7 linked regions of the Homo sapiens genome follow. The protein of the gene in region 5 purifies or fractionates together with the protein of the main gene of each other region. This does not show direct contact. Each region holds a gene or a part of one and is shown on either strand. Other genes may lie near its edges. The genes, in order: CEP295, KIDINS220, CHERP, RPS6KA3, FGFR2, UBE4A and PKP4.

Region 1 (3,500 bases), on a different chromosome or scaffold from region 5:
GAAAGTCACAGTAAGTCTGCCCCATTATTTTGATTTATTGTGATTTATGATGTGGAAATACTACAGTCCCAGAATCAGTCACATACAGTAAACAAGCTAGTTACAAAGAAGGTAAATCTTTGATAACAACTAGTGAGAAAGAAAATATCTTAAGACTGTGGCAATCTGTTTCATGGTCCTTGGTTTTAGTCTGTGTTTTTAGTAATAGCCGTAAGTTCTGACTCAGGTTTTTGTGGTTTTATGCATGCCACATTAAGTTTGTGCCTAATGCAATGTTTCCCAAACCTCTGTTATTTGAATACCATGTTCACAATTTTTGCCCTGACTGGGAAACTACCCATATCACTATATATTTTACGTACTTTAACCATGTCCTAAGTAGTTCGATATCCTATTTATATTTTTGTAATAATGTTAATTGATTGCATTAACTTTACATTAAAATGTTTGTGTTTGTCCCCCCTAATATGGCATATCATCAGTGGTACTGTTGTCATGCTCTGGGAAACACTGCTATAGTATGTAGAAAGAAGATGACAAAATTGATAAATCACTTCTGATATCATATGAGACACATTTCTATTATTCTTGTTTAACATGACATTTTAAGTAATATATATTTTTAGGAACCTGATTTGGATGCTTTGGCACAGCGGGCAGCAGAAAGGAAAAGAAAAGCAGATTTGAGGCATAAAGAAGCCTTGAAAGTACAGAAAAATCAAAAAGAAATATTACTGAAACAAAAAACCTGGTAAAGTAATAATTTTTACTATAATCTCAACTGAAACTAACATGGTTGAAAGTAGAGGATACATAGGATACTGTGTAAGCAAATATTAAATAAACATAGTAGCATATTCATTGCATTTGTTAAACTTGATTTAAAAATAATGTTGGGGACAGGGAATGATTTGCTTAGGTGAACATAGTAACTAATGAGCTTTCTTTTCTAGTTGTAGTTTGAGTTGAGTTTAGCAGCAGTTACTAAGTTTCTGAAAAAATATATGGCTACTTCAGAATGCATGTCAACCAATGTCTGTTTCCGATGTAAACATGAAATAAAAATTGATGTGATTAAGAACATTAAAAGAGGTTGTAGACTCTGGAAGTCATTAGTATTTTTTGCATGTTGTAAAAATTAAAGGGCCATTCACAGGAAACGTGAGTGAAGCAAAGTAAAAAATTAAGGGCCCTGTTACTAGTTAGCAACAGCCATTTTTAACAACATTTCTGTTTTTTTTTTTTTCACTCTAAAGAACATTATAAGTTTCTTGGGTTGGTCCCCACCATAGAGCTTTCTGTCTTTAGATAGGCCTCTCTCAATTTGTAAACATTTTCTTAACATATGTATAGACTCTTTACACATGTAAAGCTTACTGAGCCTGTGGAATCAGACTAGAGGATTTCTTGAGCCTATGACTTACATATTTTTAACCCTGTTGTACTATAATATTATCACTGAGAGATTAATTGATGACATCTCTTGTTTCTTAAGGCATATAAAAGCTCGAAAGGAAGCACTGCTTGTGGAAAAAGAGAGATCAGCCAAAATTACAAGTCTGCCACCTCCTCCTCCAACTCTTTTTGAGGTGAGTTTGAGTATTAAGAGGAACTAGGTCATAATTCTTCTTTACTATTATAATTCAGTGGAGGTCAGAATGACTATCACTTAAACTTAATTGTACAAGTTTTCTTGTACAATTAAAAACTTGTACAGGAGTATATCTGGAGTATGTTAAAATAATTCTAGATATCATTTCACCTGTAAATACTTTAGTATGTATCTCTGATGTATAAGGACTTTTTTCTTAGTATAATACTAATATTGTTTCCAATATTATTTAATACCCAGTATTTGTTCAGCCTTCCTCAATGATGTCAAAAAAATTTTGTTGTTTGGAAAACTATAATGGTTTTGGTTTTGAAAAATCTTTTAATAATTCTGCCTTTTGAAAAAATACCCTTTATTTATTTATTGGGGGAAAAAACTAAACTATTCGTCCATTAGGCTTTCCCACACTCTGAATTTGGCTTATTTTAAATGGTCAATATTTTACAGATAAGTTTCAGTTAAGTTAATAAATTTACATAAGATTATAAAGTATCCAGGTGTGATTTTAAAAAAGAAAAGAGGAAAAAAATATTATAAAATAATAAGGATCTATTTTTTATGGGAGTAAAATGTGTGCTTTTGTGATTTGAAGCTTATTTTTTTTAAAAAAATGTAATTAAAGCAGAAATTTTTTAAAATACTTGTTCTCCACATTAGCTTGTTATAGTTATTGAAATGGCTATTTGGATGATTGTCAAAATTACCTAGTTATTTTTATCTGAAGAATGAAGTAGAAGTAAACCCAGAAATACATAGTTGTACATACAAGTATATTCTGTATAAGCATAAGTACCAGATACTCACTTCTTAGGCCTTTCAGTTTGTCAGCCTTCCTGCTTGTACGTTGAGCCATCTACCATGTAACATTTGATCCAACAAAATTCAGACGGAAAAGTTGTATTTCAGTCACTCCTTCGGTACAAAGTGACATGATAAAAGCCAGGCAATGTATTATCCATGATGCCTTTTGATTATTTTTGTCTTAATTCTTAGTATTTATAACAAGCCAAAGTCAAAAATTTATAAAAAGTAAACAAAACTCTGTAAGTGCTTTGACAAGCATGAATTAATCAGTGGGCATGAACTATTTAGTTCTTTTTTTCTTTTGAGGCAGAGTCTTGCTCTGTCACCCAGGCTGGAGTGCAGTGGTGCAATCTTGGCTCACTGCAGCCTCTACCTCCTGGGTTCCAGCGATCCTCCCACCTCAGCCTCCTAGGTAGCTGGGATTATAGGCATCTGCCACCATGCCCCGCTAATTTTTCTGTTTTTAGTAGAGACGGGGTTTCACCATGTTGGCCAGGCTGGTCTCGAACTCCTGACCTCAGATGATCCACCCACCTCTGCCTCCCAAAGTGCTAGGATTACAGATGTGAGCCACTGCACCCAGCCTCGTTCCTTTTAGGAAAACAGGATATATTCCTTGTTTTTCCTCTCTGCCAGTTTTCAGAGTAAAGGGTTGGGGTAATAATCAATGCCATTGGTGGTAAATGGGTTTTTTTTTCCTTTCTCTTTTGTTACTATCACTGTTAACTTGTGGGGGTTTTTTACTCAATATTACATAGTCAATTATAGTCATTCTTTTTCTTCTCACTGATGTTCGTAATATCTGAAATTTGGTCAGCAGGAGACTTGAAGTTGTTTCTTGCGTCCCCGTGACTCCATGAGCATTTCCTTGCTCTGTGCCCCAGCAAATGACCTAGGCTTAATTTACTCTGTCCCGTATCTGGTATCTCCAAAGACCCCTGATTCTTTTTAGTGGAGAAGTGGTACTTATAAACTAAGATCTGGGTGATTATATTCTTGTTTCACTAAAAGGCATTATTTTAGAAAAATACATTACCCAAGCCAATAAAGGTGTTTGGGATAAGGCAGTGTTTCTGAATGTCTT
Region 2 (3,500 bases), on a different chromosome or scaffold from region 5:
TAGTCTTTATTCTCATTGAGCTACATTTGTTTGGCTAGGGGAAGCAGACCAAAAACAAAGTATGTGGTATGTGGAGTGATGCTAGGTGTTATAAAGAAGACCTTTAAAGTAGGGCTGTGGAAGGGGGATATAGTAGAGGGGGAGAGGGCTGTTTTATACACGTATAAATGGTATACACCATTTATACACGGTGGTCAGAGAAGCTCTGATCAGGTGACGTATGTACAGAAAGTCACTGTGGCCTGAGTAGAGTCAAGGAGAAGGAGCAGCAAGAGTTGAGCTTAGGGAGGTGGAGAAGGGGTGGAATAGATCAAGCAAGGCCTTGGCCCTGGTAGGGATCTGGGATTTTGAGTGAGAGGACAACCGTTGGGATGTTTTGAGCACAGAATGGTTGTAAGAAGACACGATTCAGGAGGACCACTTAGGCCTCTGTGTGGAGGGGGCAAGCGCTGCCACCCAGGCCCAGGAATGTCAGCACCAGGGTAGGCTCTGGGGACTGCACAGGGGTGATTGTTGCTGGAGACTTAAGTGGGAGGAGGAGAAGAGGGGCTGGAGATAGAGAACCATGGGAGGGGCCACATTCAGGAACTTACTGTGTCGTATCTGGAGGATAAGAAATAAGTAAGCCTTGGGCAGCATGGCACTATTGTTGCTTTCATGCACTGTGTCTGTAACCGGAGAAAAGTTATAGGGTGCGTCTATTAACCGATTGGCCTTTTGGTGAAAGCATTTTGAATACATTTAGAGATTTTGCCTATTAAATTGGCAAGTTCTAAAAATGGACTTACTACAACATAAATTTTTTGTTCTGACATTGCTGTTGGCTACATCTGCCATTTTCAAAACGGGTGGCAAGACATTAATTTTTTTGCTAATTGTGCAAAAGAATGTATAGCCTTATATTCCCATTAGAGAGAAAGTGCTGTGGACATTAGATTCAACTGATGTCCATTTATTCAAGAAATATAGTGTCTTGTATGGGCCAGCTATTAAGCTAAGTGTTGGGTATTTGGTATAGAACGAAAGAAAATAATTCATTCCTTTTAAAAGCTTATATCCTAGTGGGAGAGACAGCTATTAATCAGGTAAATATGTCCCATTCCAGCAGGTGTAGCTAAAAAAAAAAAAAAAAAAGACAAATTTAAAAAACATAAATATGTAAATTACAAGTTTAGTAAAGTGTTATGAAGGAATAAAAAAGATTCCATAATAGAGAACAATCCAGGTTATGAGAATCAACCAAGAAAGGGTGGTTAAGAAATGATCATATTCTGTTATTATGTAAAACAGCTAATATTTATTGGCTTCATATGGGTTAGGTATTATTTTAATCCCATTGCATGTAATTGTGCAGTTATTTGAAGATGGGGAAACTCAGACACTGAGGTGAAGAAACTACCCCAGGGGACAGGGAGTGATAAAGAGAGGCTGGTTAATAAGTACAGACATACAGTTAGGTAGAAGGAGTAAGCTGTAGTGTTCAGCAGCATGGTACTATGCTTAACAGTTTATTGTGTATTTTATTTTTTATGGTATATTTTAAAGTAGCTAGAAGATAAGATTTGAGATGTTCCCAGCACCAAGAAATGAGAAAAGTTTGAGGTGATGGATATCCTAAATACTCTGATTTGATCATCACACATCCTATGCATGTAATCCAAATATTACACATACCCCATAAACATGTACAATTATTATGTATTAGTTAAAAAAATTAAGGAAAAAAAAAAGAAACTAGCCTGGGATGATATAATGGTCAGTAGTAAAGTCAGGAGTCAAACCAAGGTAGTCTGGCTCTAGGGTCCATACTTTTGACCACTAGACAGCTTCGTTTTAAGCCGAAAGGGCTTTTGGAAGTGAACGTTGAACTGAAATGTGAAAGATGAGAAGCTGTAGTTTTCCTCCTGTGATGAAACATTTTTTTTTCTATTGAAAATGAACGTAGACTTAATACATCAAGTAAAACAATATAGCACAAAGACGCGTGAAGGCAAAGCTAATCATCTCCTCCTTTTAGTCCTACATGGTAAGATAACGAATTTTACAGCCAGGTGTGTGTCCTTCCACACTTTTCTTTTTGTTCATGTGTACACACTGGATAGATACATATATGGGGGTCTTATTTATTTTATCAAGTAGAATTATACTACACACGTGCTCTTAAACATGACAGCGTGTCATTGGTTTTACTATTGTGTGTATCAACAGATGTGGATTTAATGTTCTAATTTTATTTTGTAATTTCTAGGCACTTATATATGTGCTTACAAACATCTTATGACATTTAATAATCAATTATTCAGTGAAATTTATTAAACACTGTCAGTGCCCTCTAGTCAAAGACTGCCAGGAACATACCTCTAGTTGAACAAAGTTGGTCTTATTAACTCCCTGCAATGAAGGAGAATGCCTGTCCTAGGGAACGTTGGGGGTCTCTGTAACAGGTTGTTAGAAAGGACTTAGAAGATTCGAGATGATGTTAGGTGATTCGGGGAAGAGTTCAAGGAAGCAAAGCTTTGCTCAGTCTCGGGTGCTTCAGGAATAAGGAGGAGTGGGAATTCTGCAATTGGATATTTAAAATCTTAACGAAAAGGCAAGAGGTATGGAGTAAGGCTAAAGCTGTAATTGATAAAGAAGCAGCAATGCTTCATATTAGCCACGATAGGAAGATGTTTGGGCATTTTGTGGTTTGGGTGATGTTCATGTTTTTGTCTATGTTCAGATATGATTCCAGAGTAGTCTTATTTTTGTCTTCATATCCTGGTGACAGAGTGACCTTGTTTGATGTTGGCATTCTTTGAAATTGTTGCATTTATGTTAGAACACCAAGTCTGGCTGTGTGTGCCGGGTCAGTTCCCGACAGTCAGGGGCTGCTTTTCTCTCTCACCTCCTGTTGTGTAGGCATTGTGCTAGATATAAAGCAGATCCTGCTGCAAGAACTTCTAGTCTAAGGGAGATGTGGAGAGAGTGAGTAAAATGGAGAGGAGAGTTGAGTGTGATGTGAGCAGTCTACAACTAGATGTATACACAGGTGTGGAGGAGCCCAGGGCCTGGCCCAGCTTGGGGTAAGCAGCCAGTCAATGAAGGCTTCCAGAAGATCTGTTAGAGCCATGTTCTTAAGGATGGGTAGGAGCTGTTCAGGCATATATACGTGGAGAATGGACTTTCTAAGCAGAGGGGGCATTAAGTGCAAAGGTCTGGAAAGAACAAAGTGTGGGGCAGTGAAGGAGCTGCAAGTAGATCAGTCTGGCTGGAGCTGGAGGTGTAGATGTGACTATGTAGAGGGTGGGAGGGATGGGGCTGAGGAGGGGAGAAAGATAAGGCTGGAATGGTAAGATGGGGCCAGATTGTGAAGAATCTGCATGCCCTCATCATAATCAAGAATTGAACTTACTGAGTTTTCACTCTGCTCAGTGGAGAGCAAAGCTTTCCGTAGGAATTGTGTATTTGCATCTTTACAATGGCTTTAAAAGCCTTAGAAGGCGTAAGTTCCTTGAATA
Region 3 (3,500 bases), on a different chromosome or scaffold from region 5:
TCTGTCGCCCAGGCTGGAGTGCAGTGGCGTGATCTCAGCTCACTGCAAGCTCCGCTTCCTGGGTTCACGCCATTCTCCTACCTCAGCCTCCTGAGTAGCTAGGACTACAGGCGCACGCAACCATGCCCAGCTACTTTTTTGTATTTTTAGTAGAGACGGGGTTTCACCGTGTTAGCCAGGATGGTCTCGATCTCCTGACCTTGGGATCCACCCACCTCAGCCTCCCAAAGTGCTGGGATTACAGGCGTGAGCCACCGCACCCGGCCTAGCAAAGGATTTTAAAATTACATTCTGATCAAAGAAGATTTGTTGTAGGAATATGAGGATTGTATAGAATAGAAAATAACAGATGTGGGGAAATGACCTTTTAATTAGATACAGTAAAGATGTCTAATCAAATTCAGTGTGGATAGAAATTCTTCAGCAAACCAAGAAGGCAGAAGTGAGGCCTGTTTCTTGTAAAGCTTTGAAAAGGACAGATGTGTGTCATGTTCAAGGTCGAAACCTCCCCTCGCCCTGTCCCCTTCCTGGAAGCCAGTGATAGTCATGGTTTTAGTGGGTCCTGAAGCGATCATCCACTGGGCACTAAAAGCGGTAGCCTGGTTTGCTCTGGGGTAGTGTGGAGAGGAGACAGCGCCTCCTGCTGCCAGGCCTGCTCTAACTGCCTGTCACTTGGATTTAGATGACAGCAAGCCTCCCATCCAGATGCCTGGCTCTTCAGAGTACGAAGCTCCAGGAGGGGTCCAGGATCCTGCAGCTGCCGGCCCCCGGGGCCCCGGGCCACACGACCAGATCCCACCAAACAAGCCCCCTTGGTTTGACCAGCCTCACCCCGTGGCTCCTTGGGGCCAGCAGCAGGTATTGATTGGAACCTGGGGTGGGAGCAGATGGGGCACACTTGGCCTGATGGGGTAGCCTCCCCTATGCCAGTTGGTGGGCGTTGAGTGGCTTACTGGGGAACAATGAGGGATATTCTGTGGCAGAGCTTATGCTGGGTTAGTGACAGCCCTGTCTTCCTGTGGCTCCGGGACAGGTCAAGTGACAGGTCTTCACGTCCCTTCCCCGAGCTTTGATGGTTTGGGCTTCTCTGTAGTATAGATCACCATTGTCCTGCGAGTGCAGGGGAGTTTAACGCTGCAAGGCACGGCAGGGTGTTCTGTTTCCTGTCCTCCTTAAACAGGTTAAGCTAGTTGAGTGTCAGTGTTTTGTCATCCTGGAAAGAACAAGGTGCTTTTGTAAGGAAAGGGGGAATGTCAGAAATGTCAGCCGTGTTGCCCCTGGGAGGCCTCAGATGCAGCTTTGCTATGGGTCACATACCCCTGGGCCAAGGCAGGGGCCACCTTATGTGGCACAGCATGGCTGTGAAATGCCCTGCAGCGTGCTGGGTCCACTTTCAGCACTGAGGCACAGCCCCGGGTCTTCCAGGGCGTGACTTTCCCCCTTGCCCGTGGGGCCTGGTTGGCTTCGCAGCGTGGCCTTTCCAGGTGACTCCCTGTCTGCAGGGACAGGTGTAAGGATGGCAAGGAGACTGGCTCTGGACTGAGACTTGGTGGTTGTGGCTTTGAGCCTCCCATCCCCAGCTTCAGGACACGAAATTGAACCTCACAAAAGATTGGACACCCCCATAAAGACAGCTCCCACCTCCAAGTGCTGGCCAGGAGCCAGATGGTGGTGGCTGTTTTGCAGGTACCCTCTGCTGGGGGGGGCAGTTCTTGTCCCTGTTTTGTAGGTGTGGAAACAGGCCCTTAGTGTCTCCAGGCTCAGTCTTTTTGCAGACCAGAGGGTTGGGCTCAGGACAATGGGCACGCCCCTCACTGAGGGTGCCCGCTAGGCCAGCAGTGCATCCTGCAGTCCACACTGAGAAACAGCAGCCTGGCCTGCTTGACTTGGCCATGTGGGGTCTTAACACGTTTAAAAGTAATTTCTCAAGGCAGGAAGATTGCTTGAGGCCAGGAGTTTGGGACCAGCCTGGGCAACAAGGCAAGACTCCATCTCTACAAAGAATAAAAATAAGCTGGCATGGTGGTGCACACCTGTCGTCCCAGCTACACAGTGGTCTGAGGCAGGAAGATTGGTTCAGCCAGGACTTCAGGCTTCATTGAGCTATGGTCATGCCACTGCATTCCAGCCTGGGTGACAGAGTGAGACCTTGTCTCTAAAAAAGAAAAGCAAGGCTGGGCGTGGTGGCTAACGCCTGTAATCCCACACTTTGGGAGGCTGAGGTGGGCAGATCATTTGAGGTCAGGAGTTTGAGACCAGCCTGGCCAACGTGGTGAAACCTCGCCTCTACTAAAGATAAAAAAATAGCCGGGCATGGTGCCAGGCGCCTATAATCCCAGCTACTCGAGAAGCTGAGGCAGGAGAATCACCTGAACCCGGGAGGTGGAAGTTGCAGTGAGCCAAGATCGCGCCACTGCACTCCAGCCTGGGCAACAGAGCGAGACTGTCTCAAATTAAGAAAAAGAAAAACAAGTAGTTCCTGATATTTAATATCTGGCTCTCTGGCTTCTCTTGGAAGCCTGGTGAATGTGGCAGCCTGGGCCAGCCTCCCCTTAGTAGGGGTCAGCGCAGTTACCCAGCTGTGACCCTAGACACCGGCCTTCTCATTGGCCTCTGTGCTCCTCCCCTCCCCTGCCCAAGCTGGAGTTTGCCCTCCTGGCTTTAAGTCTCCAGAGCAGAAGCTGATGAGGGAAGAGCCTCCCGTCTTCAGTCTACAGGAAGATGCTGGCTTGGTTTGAAAGTCCCCAGAAGCAGACCCCAGGACAAGGATGTGTGTGCCGCAGTGTATCTGCCCAGCAGACGGCTTTTGGGGAGAGGGGGAGTGAGGCAGGGCAGGGGGTGTCAGAGTGAGCCCCGCCCCATGGGTGCCTGGGGTGCCCTGAGAAGCGATACCGTCTGTGCCTCTGCACCTGCCCCTGAGGGGCGAGGGAGCTGGCGTTTGTCTGGCAGTGGTAGCGGGGAGCACCTTGTGGCGCGGGCGGCCTGTGTGCGGGTGCAGCGCGCCCCAGCGGCAGAAACAGCCCCGGGACTGAGATGCGGGTGCAGCGGTTGGGTGTCTGGTCATTTTGCAGCAGCATGTGGTGCGGGCTGAGAGCAGGTGCCCAGCATCCTCGCAGGCGTCAGCGTAGGAGGCGCCTCAACGTGGCCAGGGCAGCGCCTCCATGGTCTGAGCCAGCGCTGTGATGCTGCCGAGCGCTGTGATGCTGCCGAGCACTAGGGCCTAGACCACGCAGGGCTCAAGCCTGTCCCTTCCCTTGCAGCCGCCAGAGCAGCCACCCTACCCGCACCACCAGGGCGGCCCACCCCACTGCCCCCCCTGGAACAACAGCCATGAGGGCATGTGGGGCGAGCAGCGCGGTGACCCCGGCTGGAACGGCCAGCGCGACGCGCCCTGGAACAACCAGCCCGACGCCGCCTGGAACAGCCAGTTCGAGGGCCCCTGGAACAGCCAGCACGAGCAGCCGCCCTGGGGCGGGGGCCAGCGCGAGCCACCCTTCCGC
Region 4 (3,500 bases), on a different chromosome or scaffold from region 5:
TGTGAACAAACTTTCCTTTCTTCCTTCTTCCACATATATTCTTCACAATGTTGTTTTTTCCCTTTAAAGACAATACTGAGGAAGGGATCAATGCAAAAAGGGTAAGATTAAAGAGATTTCTGTTCCCCTTGCCCTTTCAATTACGTTCAGATATTACCATGACTATTTAAACTGATCAATCAAATAAATCACTTTTAATTGCTTTGCTGGATTCTAAAAAATTACCCCAGAGGAAAAACAAAGAACTGAGACAGTTCTTTAAGAGGGATGATTCATTGTAACTATTGTTTATTAAAAACTTAAACCATGTACTGAACCAAGTACTTTACATATATTATCATTTCATTTAATTCTCACCAAAACTCTATGAGGTAGACATTATTTTCATCCCTATTTTACAAATTAGGATGTTGAAGTATAGAGATATTAAATATAACTTGCATAGGGTTACAAAGTTATTAAGTGGCAGAGCCAGGACTCAAACACAGGTCTTTATGGCTCCAGAGCTTATGTTCTTTAACACTTTGCTATTAATCCAAATAACCCCACAAAGTCCCTTCTAAGTTTTAAGAATGAGCAAAAACCAAATTACTTAATTACTAGTAACTAATGTATTTGCTTAAAATAGGTCACATGACAAAAAGACAAATACTGCATGTTCTTACTCACACGTGGGACTCATAGGTAGGGAGTTTCTACTCAGAATGAGAGTTACTAGAGGATAGGACGAGTGTGGGGGTTACAGAGGGGGTGGGGGTGAAGAAAGGTTGGTTAATGGGCACAGTACATACAATTGGATAGAAGGAATAAGTTCTAACAATGGATAGCAGAGTAGAGTAGGGTGACTATAGTTAATAACAATGTTTTATATATTTCAGAATAGTTAAAAGAGAGGATTTGAAATGTTCCCAACACACAGAAATGATTAATGGATATCCCAAATACCCTGATGTGATCATTACACATTCTATGCATGGAACAAAATATCACATGACCCCATAAAAATGTACAAATATTATTTATCAATTGAAAAGTAAACATTTTGGTGTGCCAAAGTTTATCTTTCAACAGTTTGTTTAACCAAAGAGACAACTTCCTCCTATGTTTCTGTACATTAGGGATTAATAAATATTGGCTTTTAAATTGTACAACTTGATAAACTGTCAAAAAATAAATAGGCCAAATGTATTAAAATAATCATAATGTGCTATATGGATACATTTTATCCTGAACCTGTTTTATAAAACACATACACACACAGACACACACACATTTGCGTTTGTTTTGCTAAATCATGACAAAACTTAATGATTAAATATGGTAGTTTTTACTGAACGATTAAATAGGGTAGTTTTTCTTTGTTTTAATGCTTTTTGGTGTTTAACTGATAAACTAGAATATCTGAGATCTGATATCTCCAGGTTAATGATACAGGTCACTGTATTAATTCCAAAAGAACACACTGATGGGAGTGGGGTGGAAGGAAGACATTGAATGCTAGGTATTACAATTTAGATACTTGTTTTTTTCTATTTATGTGAATTGGGGAACGGGATGTATAATATATGTACTTGCACAGCTGCATTTCAATGCTTTAAAATGTGTTATCCACCAAAGCACATAAACAACTGAGCACTATCACACGCAGGCATTACCAGTGAGACCACCACCATGTCAGTGTGTCATTCATTATAATCTGAACCGTTGGGTCTAAAGCACCCATTCTGCACTGGGTCAACCAGGCAAGTGTGACCTTACCCATCATTCACAGCCTGGCAGATCACATGTCCCTGAGCATTGAACTGTAGAGCAAATCTTGTTAATTATCACAATGGTATGAATTTCTTAGTAATAAAAATTTTTAAAAACTTTAGGACAATTGTTCTGCAACTCAGACTTCTAGATAAGTGATCTGTATTTTTGGTCATTCTATAATTTAGCAAATGTCAAGTCCTTGGTCAGGAGTACACAGTCCAATTATGCCACCTGTCTTATTAAAAATAAGATATACTTATTGTGGTTTCCAGAAATGTATACTAAAGAGAAGACAAAGTCTGCCTATATTTGCTCCTGCAATTAGATAAAAGTTTTATTAATAAAATTTAAATGCATCCAGCAAGTTTCACATTTTGAATCTACCCCATTACTACAGGATCAAGCTGCCAAAATAAAGCAAAGTTTTCTAGATTTTACAAAACTGACATCCTCTATCATAATCACTGAAAACAATGAAGTGTTCAGTAATGGGTCACAGTTACTTGACAGTTGACATGTAACAATACCTGTCCTCTCCTCAGATCTTCACTTAGGGGAAAGAAAAAAACCTGAAAGGTGGTAAAAATAAAACAGGAAAAGGAAAAGAAACAATAAAACATTTTTTTTCAAAATCAATGATTATACTTTAATAGAGCATTTTCCCTATAGATAAAATAAGAAACCTATATAATATTGATATAGTAGAAATACTATAAAATCTATGTACTATACTATAGAATACTACATAATCTTTGAGGTTAAAAATGGCTGCACATTCACTAAACATGATCTCCCACACAAAGGCCTCATTTTCTATAATAAAATACTTATATAGTTGATTTTTTAAATATTTTTCAGTGCATCATGGGTACCTGTTATTTAAAGGAAGTCGAGGTAGCTATTTTCATACAACACATTGTTTAATACACATTGTATACAACACATTATATTGTGGCTATTTTATATAACACATTTCTATAAAACAAAAATAACCTCCATAATTTTATCATTTTGAAAACTTCATATTTAGATTTACTATCATTTATACCTACTCTATTGCAGTGGAGAAAAAAGTATCACTCTAGGTCAGGCTTATGATCCACTAAATGCTGTCTCTGACAGCACTGGCAAAGAATTTGTACAACAGAAGAGCCATAATTCCTACCTATCCATCCTCTAAACAGTCAAATATTCAAAAGCATATTAGCATCTTTAAGTAACTCACTAAAGAGTTCACCTAGACCAGTTAGGAAGCTAGTTTGTTTTTTATCTTGTACCAACCCTTACTTTGCTTACATAGTACTTCCTTTATTATCCTAAATTTGCTTCTTTAAACATTTGGCCTAGTTCTAGCCTATCATGTTCTGACCCACGTTTGAGTTTAACCACAAGGGTTTTTTTGTTTTGAACACCATGAGATTCGTGTGAGGTCTTAAAGCAGGAAGGCCAGTGTAAAGGAACTGAAGAAACTGCCTGTGTTTTTACTGAGGCACTGAGGTCTTTTTAAATTGTTCATATTTTAATGAGATTAAAATGATAAAAAACAGATAAGATTCATAATCATCCTATTCCTGACTTTCATGATTCATTCAGCAGATATTTATTAAGTCCACAATATGTCAGGGCCAGGCATTGTGCTGAATGCTGAGGATTCAGAGAGGGGGGGAAAAATGTCTGCTTTCAAGAATTCACAGTGTACTAGGGATGAGACCATAAATGTAAACTCCTACACAGACCAATCCTGA
Region 5 (3,500 bases):
GTACACACACACACACTGCACACATACTTTTCTTGCTTTTGCTGTGAATCACACCGTTTCACCTGTGCTATCTTTGAAGCAGAGGTTTTCTTTATTCCTCCTTTGGAAATGATGTGGCATATTCTTTTCCCTCCTCCATTTTTGTCCTCAGTCAAAGCTAAAAGGAGCAGTTTTTATGATGAGATTTGGGGAGGCTCCAGCAGTGTTGAAATCCTATGACATAACTTGAAACATCGAGTGGGTACATAAAAAATGTAGAGTTTAGAGATTTTTGTATTAAAGGCCTCCCTGCCACCCCCAGTCTTAGAAAATGTGGTTCATTCCTGTGGTTCACAGAATCTGAAGCCTGAGATTGATGAGCCCCTTCTTGTGATTGTTTTAATCATTCTCTAAAGTTTGTGCATTTTACTGTACCCTTAGTCACAGAGAGTACTGAGTGAATTTAAAGTTGCTTGGAATATATTAAGCTTTCTTGGAAAATTCTCTTTCCCTTGGATCAAATGGGTGAACAGAATATTAAGTTGAGTGTCCTCTTCTAACTTATACTCTGAAAATTTAGCCAGTAGGTTTGCATATGGAAAGTTATTGGTCCAATCACATACCATGACTATAATTTACATAATTTACATCATCATTATTAATAAATTCCTGCATTATTCATCAGAATTTGCATCTGCTCAGTTTCCTCACCCTTCTACAGAGGTTGAAGACATTTAGCAGCCCTGGACTGCCATTTAGTCACAGGGGAAGGGAATTCAGGCTTCGAAGTCCTTTTTGGATCAGCTGCGTTGAATGCGCTGCAGTTGTGTTCACTCTTCGTAAGTGGCTGCTTGGCGGAAGACTGAAAGACACTTCTCCATTTGAAAATGAATCCTGACAAGTGTAAACTGGTGGGAATTTTCTGTAGCCTTCCTGGGATTCTTTTGATTTTGCTGGTCTCCTTTCTTCCCAAGAGCGACAGTGAGGGTGGGAGACTGCTCACCTCCAGCCCAGCAGAAATACGGAGCTGTGAGCAGACTCCTCCAACAGTTTAGCTTTCTAAAGCCCAGTTGGACTAAGAGAAGGGAACGAGGTTGGTTATGCCAACCCGAGCATTTTTAACTTGCTTTTGTAGTTGCCCTTGAAACTAAGGTCACGTTGCTTCTGCTCATTGAGGGCGGTGGAGGCGATAGTGGATAGTAGAAGAGAGCACACATTGCCTCACTGAAGTGGCTGCACGTATCTGAGTCCTGTAGCTACTGTTTTATCTCTGTTTCTTAAAAGTATGCTTTTAAAAAGATTAGCCTCACACATTTCTGTGGACCGGTCTGGTGGTATCACCTGGGACTCTGAGGTGAGGATGGAAGGATTTAGCAGATAATGAAAAAGAACTCTGTTTGCGCACATTTGAGAGGCTGAAAAATGGTTTTATCCCACTTGGGCTGGAGTGATTTGGCATTGGGGAAGATTCCCTGACTCGCCAATCTCTTTCCTTTAGTGACTGCAGCAGCAGCGGCAGCGCCTCGGTTCCTGAGCCCACCGCAGGCTGAAGGCATTGCGCGTAGTCCATGCCCGTAGAGGAAGTGTGCAGATGGGATTAACGTCCACATGGAGATATGGAAGAGGACCGGGGATTGGTACCGTAACCATGGTCAGCTGGGGTCGTTTCATCTGCCTGGTCGTGGTCACCATGGCAACCTTGTCCCTGGCCCGGCCCTCCTTCAGTTTAGTTGAGGATACCACATTAGAGCCAGAAGGTAAGTCATTTAATTTCACTTTTCAGGTTTGTTTTGGGATTTGTCTGGGGGCAGATTGTTAAGGCCTGTTTTAGAATCAGCTACCCTTGCATTGTAAATGGGGCTTCTAAGAGCACCAGATCGTGGTCTCTTGGCTCCCGGCAAGGCAGAGCTGATGAGAGAAGGTCCTTTGCCGCAGCACTGCAGGCAGGATGGTATAGTTTGGTGGTTTCTTGCTGTGTGTGTTTCTCTGTGCTGGGTGAGGGAGACAGCTGGGAGTTGGCCTTTATCCAGTGCCCGAGAGAGCTGTGGAAGGGATGAACCTTGGGAGGATGAATGTCATCTCTAGTCTCCCCCAGCATCATTCCTACTGCTTACAATGTAAAGAATTGCTATTTTCGGACAAGATGAACCACTAAAAGAAATTGCCAACATCTGAAATGCTGACATCTTATTTTCATTGTTTAAGGAGAAAAGAAGTTTCTGAAGTTTAGCACAGAGAGAGAGGCTTGACATCTCAGAATTTTTTTTTAGCCATTGTAATTCATAATACTTAAGCAATGCATCATCACAGAGTGGCAGATTCTAGTTTAGGTAAACTTGAAAGTGAATGTGCCAGGGGATCTCCTCCAGCTCCGAGAACCTCCAAGTATCACAGGGCATGCGCCGGTGTCACAGCTTTGGAAATTTAATTTTCAAGGTGTAAGTCCAATTACGAGGACTACATGAGGCTGAATTATTCAGCTTAGCAGATTTGGAACCTCTCTCCCAGCCCTTTGGAGACAACGTGAGCCAAGCCTCTACTTGGTGCTGCACTGAAATCTGTCATCAGTAGGGAATATTGGTAGCTGAGTTATTTTTCGAGTGGTAATCCGAGAATAAAACGGCAGATCCCAGCACTCATCGCCACTTAATGAACCTGTTTGTGGAGAGTCCACCTGGTGCCTGCCTGGCTTTAGGAACCCGCAGCAGTCCGAGTGGTGTCTGGGGTAAGCTGAGCTGCTCTGGGAACACATCTCGTGCGTGGGGTGAATGAACAGCACACTTACCCAGTGGGGTAGGCTGGGAGAGGACAGAGAGCCCAGCCTCCTTAGCTGGATCAGGACAGTTTAGGAAGGAGGGTTGCGTCCATCTGAGATGAGAGTTCTGAGAGACATGGGCTCCCCAGGAAGACCCCAGGCACTTGTCATTGAAGGATGAGGACCGAAGCACTTATCACCTGAAGCAATCGTGTGAGACTGGGGAACTTTTCGTTACACAGAGGGATGGCAGCTCTATAATTAACAGGTGTGGTGACATCTCCCTGCGTCTCTGGGAAGGGAATCTGGTAGGAGTTTGTGTCTGAGGCTTGTATAGCTACAGCTACAGGCCGATTATGGAACTGCCTCTTGGTGATTTGTGCTGGGACACCAGGATGAGTGTAATTTGCAGTGGTGATGCATTTTTACAGGGCTTTCATGTAAGAGGGAAAAAGTTCCTGGTTTCTGAAAGTCATGCCTGTACGTCTTTAATTTTGCTAATAATTAAAATGGATGTTTCCGTGATTGCTGGTTTTCCCTTGAGTGCGTGGCTCGGCAAAAACTGAGGAAGCTGAGCTGGGATTTCCTACGGTGTGGGCTTTAGGAGCAACCCAGGTTAGGGAAAAACTGTCATTTTTCATTTTGGCTTTTCAGGGCAGCGTTATTGTGAGTTTATTTCAACATAAAGTGTAAAATGGTCCCAGAGGATTTGTTTTACTGTATTTAATTCTTGAAGGAAGTTTAAAATTGTGTATACATGCAGGGA
Region 6 (3,500 bases), on a different chromosome or scaffold from region 5:
AGCAGAATTCAGCCGCATAGCTAATTTTTGCTAAGGGCACACATTAGGAACGTAAGAATATTACCTGCTCAACATTGCTCATATCAAGCCAGTCTTGATCTTCTAGCTCTACTGCCATTTCTTCCAAATACACACAACGGCTAGGGATGCCATTCCCGCTTTTCAAGCTGGGATCACCTGGGAAATGGTTTTAATATGATAGGTTAAGGATAATGCTTCTGTTTTATACAGACAACTGATCTTGACAGCATCACTCTTGAACTGCAAATCTGACTCAAGTAATACCAGAATGATCCTGATACACAAAGCAACATCTAAAGATTCAAATCTTTTTTTTTCCCCCTCTAGTCACAGAGAATGGGATTTGTTATAAACCTAGCATCATGACATTTAAAGAGTAAATCCCAGACATTAGTACCAACCTTGGGGTTTAAACACAGACAGGGCACAGAGGGCAAACACTCTCTGATGCCTCTGAAGGCTTCCATCTGAATATTTAGGTTACCTCTGAGAAGAAAATGGGTTTGGCTACCCTTCCCATTTCCTTTTTAAGGTAGTAAAGGCAAGTAGCTATATAGTGCAGTCAGTATTGAAATGGGAACAAAAGTTAGATCTGCATCTAAATACTGTTTTTAGGTCATACCAAAAGGTTCACTGAAATATAAACCCTGAGTTCCAGGGAGTGCAGTGAGTAGGTTTGTATCTAACCATTAGCTGTAACCAGTTTCAAAGAGCAAGCCCCTAGCCCAAGCTCAAATAGGAAGGGTAGAATAATGCTATAAGTTTGTAACTCACTGTTGTCCAGAGTAATAAGGAAGATCCTTTGGATCATGTGATTGATGTTGAGTTGCTCACATATTTCCTGCTGTGATCGGAATGAGCGGCTAATCTCAGCCACAGAGTAATCGAATTCATCCAGGCTCTCTGACACGCTATTATCCGAGTCATCTGGGCTAGCTGGGAGTTCATCTGCCAGAAAATGTATACTGTTAAATGTTACACCCCTTTAAGAGAGAACCAAGCATGCTACCAAAAATAATAAATGTAACCAAGAAGATGATAATTTCAGATGTAAAACAAGCTAATCATCTAATTAGTGAACATCTCAAGTCAGGGAAGTTAAATATAGGGTTTTGAAATTCCTGGCTATAAATCCTACCACATTTTACAAAGCAAAAGTTTTATTTCTATCCATAATTATACTCCACACTGCCAGAAATAGCAAAGTTATCTTCTCTACAGAATCCTAGTGAACAAAGAATTACCTAATAGATCAAAATGCCTTTAATTATTTTAAATGTATGGCTTTTCTCCCTGATTTTAAGAGATAACATTTGTTTTAATAGTTCTTAACTGTACAGAAAAATATAGTATAGAAAGTCTCCTGAACCAATTCCCTAAAGACACTTAACAGTGTTCAAGAATTTTTTTCTTTTCTGGTGCTAATATTCATTACTATCTTTTTAATTTTTTTAAAAAATGGGATACTATACATAGCTCTTTTCAGCTTGCCTTTTAATCAGCACCAACACCTTTCCCTGTTAGGCCATTTAGAGGCCTACCTCACTATTTTTAATAGCTGTATTGTATCACATCTTTTGCATGCCCTGTGGTTTATGTAGCTACTTTTCAACTGATGAACAATAGGGTTGTTTCTAATATTTCATGATTTTAAATACTGCACTGAATACAATACAACTTAACTCTTTTTGTTTACTTGTATGAGTATTTCTATAGGATAAATTCACAGTAGCAGAACTGCTGGATCAAAGAGCTTGAACATTTAAAAAGTTAACATTTACTGCCTGGCACGGTGGCTCACACCTGTAATCCCAGCACTTTGGGAGGCTGAGGCAGGCGGATCACGAGGTCAGGAGATTGAGACCATCCTGGCTAACATGGTGAAACCCCATCCCTACTAATACAAAAAATTAGCCAGGCGTGGTGGCACACACCTGTAGTCCCAGCTACTCGGGAGGCTGAGGCAGGAGAATTGCTTAAACCCGGGAGGCAGAGGTTGCACTGCACTCCAGCCTCGGTGACAGAGCAAGACTTCGTCTCAAAAAAAAAAAAAAAAAAAAGTTAACATTTACTACCAAGTTACCCTCAAAGAGACTGTCTGATTTACATGCAAACCCAACAGTATATGAGAGAGTGCCTGTTTGAATCTTCACAAATTTCATAGGTAAAAAAACAATTTAATGGTTGTTTTAATTGGCACTTCTCTAATGATTGATGAGAATAAATTTTTTAATCATTTGGTTATAAGTTGCATGTCACATCTTTTGTACCTTTTTATTCTTTCTTGTTATTTTTTTCTTATTGATGAAATTCCTTCGATTTTTTTTTTTTTAAACTTCTGTCCTCAAAATCTGCTCCCATCCTTTGATTTTTTTTTTTGAGATGGACTCTCACTCTGTCGCCCAGGCTGGAGTGCAGTGGTGTGATCTCGGCTCACCGCAACCTCTACCTCCCAGGTTCAAGTGATTCTCCTGCCTCAGCCAAGTAGCTGGGACTACAGGCGCCCACCACCACGCCCGGCTAATTTTTGTATTTTTAGTAGAGATGGGGTTTCACCATGTTGGCCAGGCTGGTCTCAAACTCCTGACCTCAGGTGATCCGCCCACCTTGGCCTCCCAGAGTGCTGGGATTATAGGCGCCTGTCATCATGCCCGACTAATTTTTGTGTTTTTAGTAGAGACGGGGTTTTGTCATGTTGGCCAGGCTGGTCTCGAACTCCTGACCTCCGGTGATCTGCCCACCTAGGCCTCCCAAGGAGCTGGGATTACAGGCGCGAGCCACTGCGCCCAGCCCCATCATTCATGTTGAATGACTACATAAAAGTAGTGTTATTCACTATATGCCACATATGAGTCTATATGTACTTTTCTCTATTGACAGAATGGCTAGTCTGAAAGTCCAGGTAAAACTCTCAAAGTAAGAGTTGTTTCAGTGTGGTGAGTATAAGCTCAACATAGGAAGCCAAAGGTTTTGGCAAAGTACTAATTGCTAGTGGAAACAGGTTGGACCTGGTGGCATGATAAACTCAGTGTAAACAAACTAGGATGATGAGGTGCCAAAATAGTAACAGAAGGGCATGTGCCTGCAATGCTCCCAACTCTAGCCAGATTTATGTCTGTTTATAGCCAGAAGGACAAGCGTTCTGTTGCTCAGCTGCTATACTGTTGAGTTTTTCTCTGACCTCCAATGGTGACAGAAGCTAAGAATCTGTTTAGCAAAATTTCCCTCAACCACATACTCATAAATCATACTTTCTCATTCCTTATTTTTCCTATTTTTCACTCTGCTTTTTCCCCTACAATCTTCTAAACCAGAGTTTCCCATTCTGGCCCCGTATCATAGAAATCTGGGAGAGATTTCAGAGACTGAAAATACCATGTTAAAAAAAATCAACATTGATTTTGTTTTTCCCTTGCATCAATCACTTATCTGTCTTGCCTTTACCTCTTTTTTCTTCAGCCCTTTCTAACTGAAAGGCC
Region 7 (3,500 bases), on a different chromosome or scaffold from region 5:
CTCCCAAATCAAGAAAGGCTAGAAAAGAGGAAGGGGGTTTGGAATATACATGATATAAATCAACAGACAGTGGTTAAATAGATATCAAGAGGCTCTAGTTCTAGTCCTGGCTTTGCCACTATGCAGGTGTGTGTCCCATGAGCACATCATGTAACTCTCGTGGGCTTTAGTTTTCTTGTCTATAAAATGAGGGAGTTGGTCTAGATGCTCTCTAGAGTCCCTCTAGTACTTACATTTCGCAACTCTTAGAACATCAAGCCATTACATTTTTTCCTCAGCAAGAATATGCTGTCTTCCCAAGGATTTATGACAATTTACCCTCTGGGATAAGGAGGGAAAATTGAAGTTGTATACTTGAAATTCTCAGCTCCTGAAAATATGTGTCGCAGCCAGACAAACCTGTGACCCCTCTGTGGCTGAGTCAGTGGCTCCGTGTCTTGTGCGGTAGTGGTGAAGTGCTCCAGGAGTGAGGATCCCTGGGGCCCCTCGGGGCAGGAGCTGAGCAGTGAGCCTTTATGGAGCTGCACATCTGCAGTTTGTCACAGCCCTGACTTCTGGGACTTACTTGTCTACAACCAGTCCCCTGTGCACATTGGAGGCTTCACCTCTGATTGAGACTACATTTTTCAGAAGTTGGATAGAAACAAGAAAGGGGATTTAGCATGGTGGTTAGAAGGGACTAGTCTTGTTACAGTGAGAAAGATCCACTTCTTACTTGCTCAGATGGTTTGATTTGTCCTCAGAGAAGTTAAACAACTGACAGAGTTGCTCCTCTGAAAACATTTTGTATGAATACTTTAGGTTCATAGGGAACTCGTCAATCCATATCTCATAGAATAGAGGGACTTTTCATTCAAGTCTAATTTTTACATATAGACAATCTACCAGTGTTCAGAAATTGTGGCAGATTTCATGAGGAGAATTTTTTACTTGGATTTGTGCTCTTCTATAAAAAGTAATTTAAAAATTCAGTGATGAAAGTTTCTCCTAGACCCTGTTCTCTTCCTTTGTGGAGAAAAAAAATCCGTATAGAACTCTAGTATGTATTTATCTATAAAACAATTGTTTAAAAATATTGAGGTTAGCTCTTCCCCTTTGCTAATGCAATAAGCACATTATTTGCAAAGGGAAGCATTAATTATACTACTATTGTATGCAGTATTAAATGAATTGTCAATGTCACGATCAAAATAAACCCTTGAAGAACTGGCTGTTGTTCCCATACCTTCATGAGAATTGTAAACACTCATGTAAAATAGAAACCATTATTTACCACTTTGCAGTGAAATGGATCATGTGTTCTGACACCTGTACCCTGAGTTGAGTGGGAAACAGGGACTGTTTGATGAATTAAAGGTAACTTTATTCCTGTATACCACTAGGGGTGCAAGTGAGGGGACTGTAGACAATTAGTACTTTAGATATTTGTTGGAGTCCTGCTGTGTGTGCAGTATTGTGTTTCATTTTGCATACTTATTTAAAACGATACTACTTATTTGAAATGATTCATTTTAGTTCATTTTAACCAACATTTTTTAGTCCCCTACTCCATATCAGACTGATAGGCCTTATGGCCAAAAAGATGACTTCCTCCAGGGATACTTACTGTCTGTGTTAGATTCAGTAATGGGAGTCTCGGTCTTTAAGGAATCCATGATACATTTTTCAGTCTGGTTGGGAAAGATAAGACACATGAGGTAGAGAAGATTGTCCTAGAAATGTTGGTATATAAATAAGCATGTAACATTGTTTCATAAGTATTAAGGATGAGCTATAAAATAACTAGGTTGTAGCTCATACTTCTACTTGCTTAATTGTGTATTACATGATAAATTACCCGATTCTAGAGATATGCACTAACCACTCTCATTAGCTTTCTTTGGGAAAAGTCTGCACCAAAGATAAATAGTGATTTCAAAATAAGTTTTAATCATGAACTTGATTATTTTGGCTGTATCTCTTGAAACACTTTACCATATAGCCTATGTGAAATAATTAATCATAATGACAATACATGATTTATGAGAAACCATAATTTATGCTGTAAGACCTGCCATTTTATTACATTCTTATTTTTATTTTTCATGCAGCAGTATTTTCGTTTATTGTGTTTTGTGCTTTTCTTTTATTCTCTATGTAATTTGTGTGCCTTTATAAGCCCAAACTTGCTGTTGAAAATATTCCCTCCCATTGTTATGAATAAACAGAATGTTTCAAAATCTCTCGTGATGTATGCTAGAATAAATGGTCTCATTGAATCTTACTTTGAATCTCAGAATGATGCACTGATGGGAATTTTTCACTTACTGTCATTTTGTCGACAACTACATAAGCAGTAAGTCTGTTTAAAAAAGGCACTGACTAAGGAATCACAAAATCCAACTGGACTTCACAAGAACTATTAATACTATTAGTCTGAGACCTGTGATAAACAACTCAGATGTTAAAGGTCTAATTCAGACTGTCAACAGATGAAAAATAAGTGTCAGTCTGAAATCTTCGGATAGTATATCGGCAAGTGTCAGTCTTCCAAAATATTATTTAGAACTGTGAATATAATTTTTCACAGAAGCAACATTAATCCATAAATCTCCCGTCCTGTAGTGTAACTATAGTATATCAGTTCCATGGGAAAATAGTCCTGCTCTAAGCTACTCAACAGCAGGGACTTTATCTTTCTACAGGACTTAAATCTTGACCTCCAGTGGTTCTACATACCTTAAGTGAATGAATGAGTTTGAATTCTAGTTTTGAACACCTTCACCTGCTACTCTTGGATAATCGTGTCTGTTTGTGCCTAGTACCTATCCTCTGTCCTTTTGTAAACTGGTCTGAGACCCTGATACCATTTATCCTGCATGTTTCAAAGGAAAAAACTATTTAGACTTTAAAAAAATGCTTTTCTAATACAACTTGCTAGATAAATAATTCATTATACCAAATTCCTTAGTAAAGAAATTAACGGCTGGGTGCAGTGGCTCACACCTGTAATCCCAGCACTTTGGGAGGCTGAGGCAGGTGGATCACTTGAGATTAGGAGTTCAAGACCAGCCTGGACAACATGGTGAAACCCCATCTCTACTAAAAATACAAAAAAAAAAAAATTAGCCAGGCGTGGTGGCGGGCGCCTGTAGTCCCAGCTACTTGGGAGGCTGAGGTGAGAGAATCACGTGAACCCGTGAGGCAGAGGTTGCAGTGGGCAGAGATTGCACCACTGCACTCCAGCCTGGGTGACAGAGCGAAACTCCATTTCAAAAAGAAATTAATTAGAAGATTTTAAACAGATTGGTTCATATTCATTTTAAACTTAATTGCCTGGATTATAACCATAGTGAGATGAGTTTTCATAATGCTCTTTATCATACTACTAATAGGCACCAATCAAGCACCAAGACTAAGCTAAGCTTTGAAAGTGTGATATTGAGCAAACTTTCTGTATCTGTACCTTTTGTGAATCAGTAATATCTTTGTATACTCAGTTGAAGAGTTAAGACAGAAGT

Evidence for each region.
Region 1: the proteins of FGFR2 (region 5) and CEP295 purify together in Homo sapiens (affinity purification with mass spectrometry; 2 studies listed by BioGRID and IntAct, with this or other methods). This does not show direct contact.
Region 2: the proteins of FGFR2 (region 5) and KIDINS220 purify together in Homo sapiens (affinity purification with mass spectrometry; 2 studies listed by BioGRID and IntAct, with this or other methods). This does not show direct contact.
Region 3: the proteins of FGFR2 (region 5) and CHERP purify together in Homo sapiens (affinity purification with mass spectrometry; 2 studies listed by BioGRID and IntAct, with this or other methods). This does not show direct contact.
Region 4: the proteins of FGFR2 (region 5) and RPS6KA3 purify together in Homo sapiens (affinity purification with mass spectrometry; 4 studies listed by BioGRID and IntAct, with this or other methods). This does not show direct contact.
Region 6: the proteins of FGFR2 (region 5) and UBE4A purify together in Homo sapiens (affinity purification with mass spectrometry; 2 studies listed by BioGRID and IntAct, with this or other methods). This does not show direct contact.
Region 7: the proteins of FGFR2 (region 5) and PKP4 purify together in Homo sapiens (affinity purification with mass spectrometry; 2 studies listed by BioGRID and IntAct, with this or other methods). This does not show direct contact.

Annotation. Positions count from the first base shown.
Region 1 is NC_000011.10:93,668,182-93,671,681, forward strand, and holds part of CEP295 (centrosomal protein of 295 kDa), read left to right. Parts: intron 1-626; coding exon 627-751; intron 752-1,495; coding exon 1,496-1,589; intron 1,590-3,500. UniProt on the Homo sapiens protein: Centriole-enriched microtubule-binding protein involved in centriole biogenesis.
Region 2 is NC_000002.12:8,831,114-8,834,613, reverse strand, and holds part of KIDINS220 (kinase D-interacting substrate of 220 kDa), read left to right. Parts: intron 1-3,500. UniProt on the Homo sapiens protein: Promotes a prolonged MAP-kinase signaling by neurotrophins through activation of a Rap1-dependent mechanism. Provides a docking site for the CRKL-C3G complex, resulting in Rap1-dependent sustained ERK activation.
Region 3 is NC_000019.10:16,525,438-16,528,937, reverse strand, and holds part of CHERP (calcium homeostasis endoplasmic reticulum protein), read left to right. Parts: intron 1-682; coding exon 683-858; intron 859-3,260; coding exon 3,261-3,500. UniProt on the Homo sapiens protein: Involved in calcium homeostasis, growth and proliferation.
Region 4 is NC_000023.11:20,260,410-20,263,909, forward strand, and holds part of RPS6KA3 (ribosomal protein S6 kinase alpha-3), read right to left. Parts: intron 1-3,500. UniProt on the Homo sapiens protein: Serine/threonine-protein kinase that acts downstream of ERK (MAPK1/ERK2 and MAPK3/ERK1) signaling and mediates mitogenic and stress-induced activation of the transcription factors CREB1, ETV1/ER81 and NR4A1/NUR77, regulates translation through RPS6 and EIF4B phosphorylation, and mediates cellular proliferation, survival, and differentiation by modulating mTOR signaling and repressing pro-apoptotic function of BAD and DAPK1.
Region 5 is NC_000010.11:121,591,945-121,595,444, reverse strand, and holds part of FGFR2 (fibroblast growth factor receptor 2 isoform 1 precursor), read left to right. Parts: intron 1-1,186; exon of another isoform or gene 1,187-1,477; 5' UTR 1,478-1,570; coding exon of another isoform or gene 1,571-1,627; coding exon 1,628-1,736; intron 1,737-3,500. UniProt on the Homo sapiens protein: Tyrosine-protein kinase that acts as a cell-surface receptor for fibroblast growth factors and plays an essential role in the regulation of cell proliferation, differentiation, migration and apoptosis, and in the regulation of embryonic development.
Region 6 is NC_000011.10:118,366,100-118,369,599, reverse strand, and holds part of UBE4A (ubiquitin conjugation factor E4 A), read right to left. Parts: intron 970-3,500; coding exon 796-969; intron 178-795; coding exon 65-177; intron 1-64.
Region 7 is NC_000002.12:158,463,452-158,466,951, forward strand, and holds part of PKP4 (plakophilin-4), read left to right. Parts: intron 1-3,500. UniProt on the Homo sapiens protein: Plays a role as a regulator of Rho activity during cytokinesis. May play a role in junctional plaques.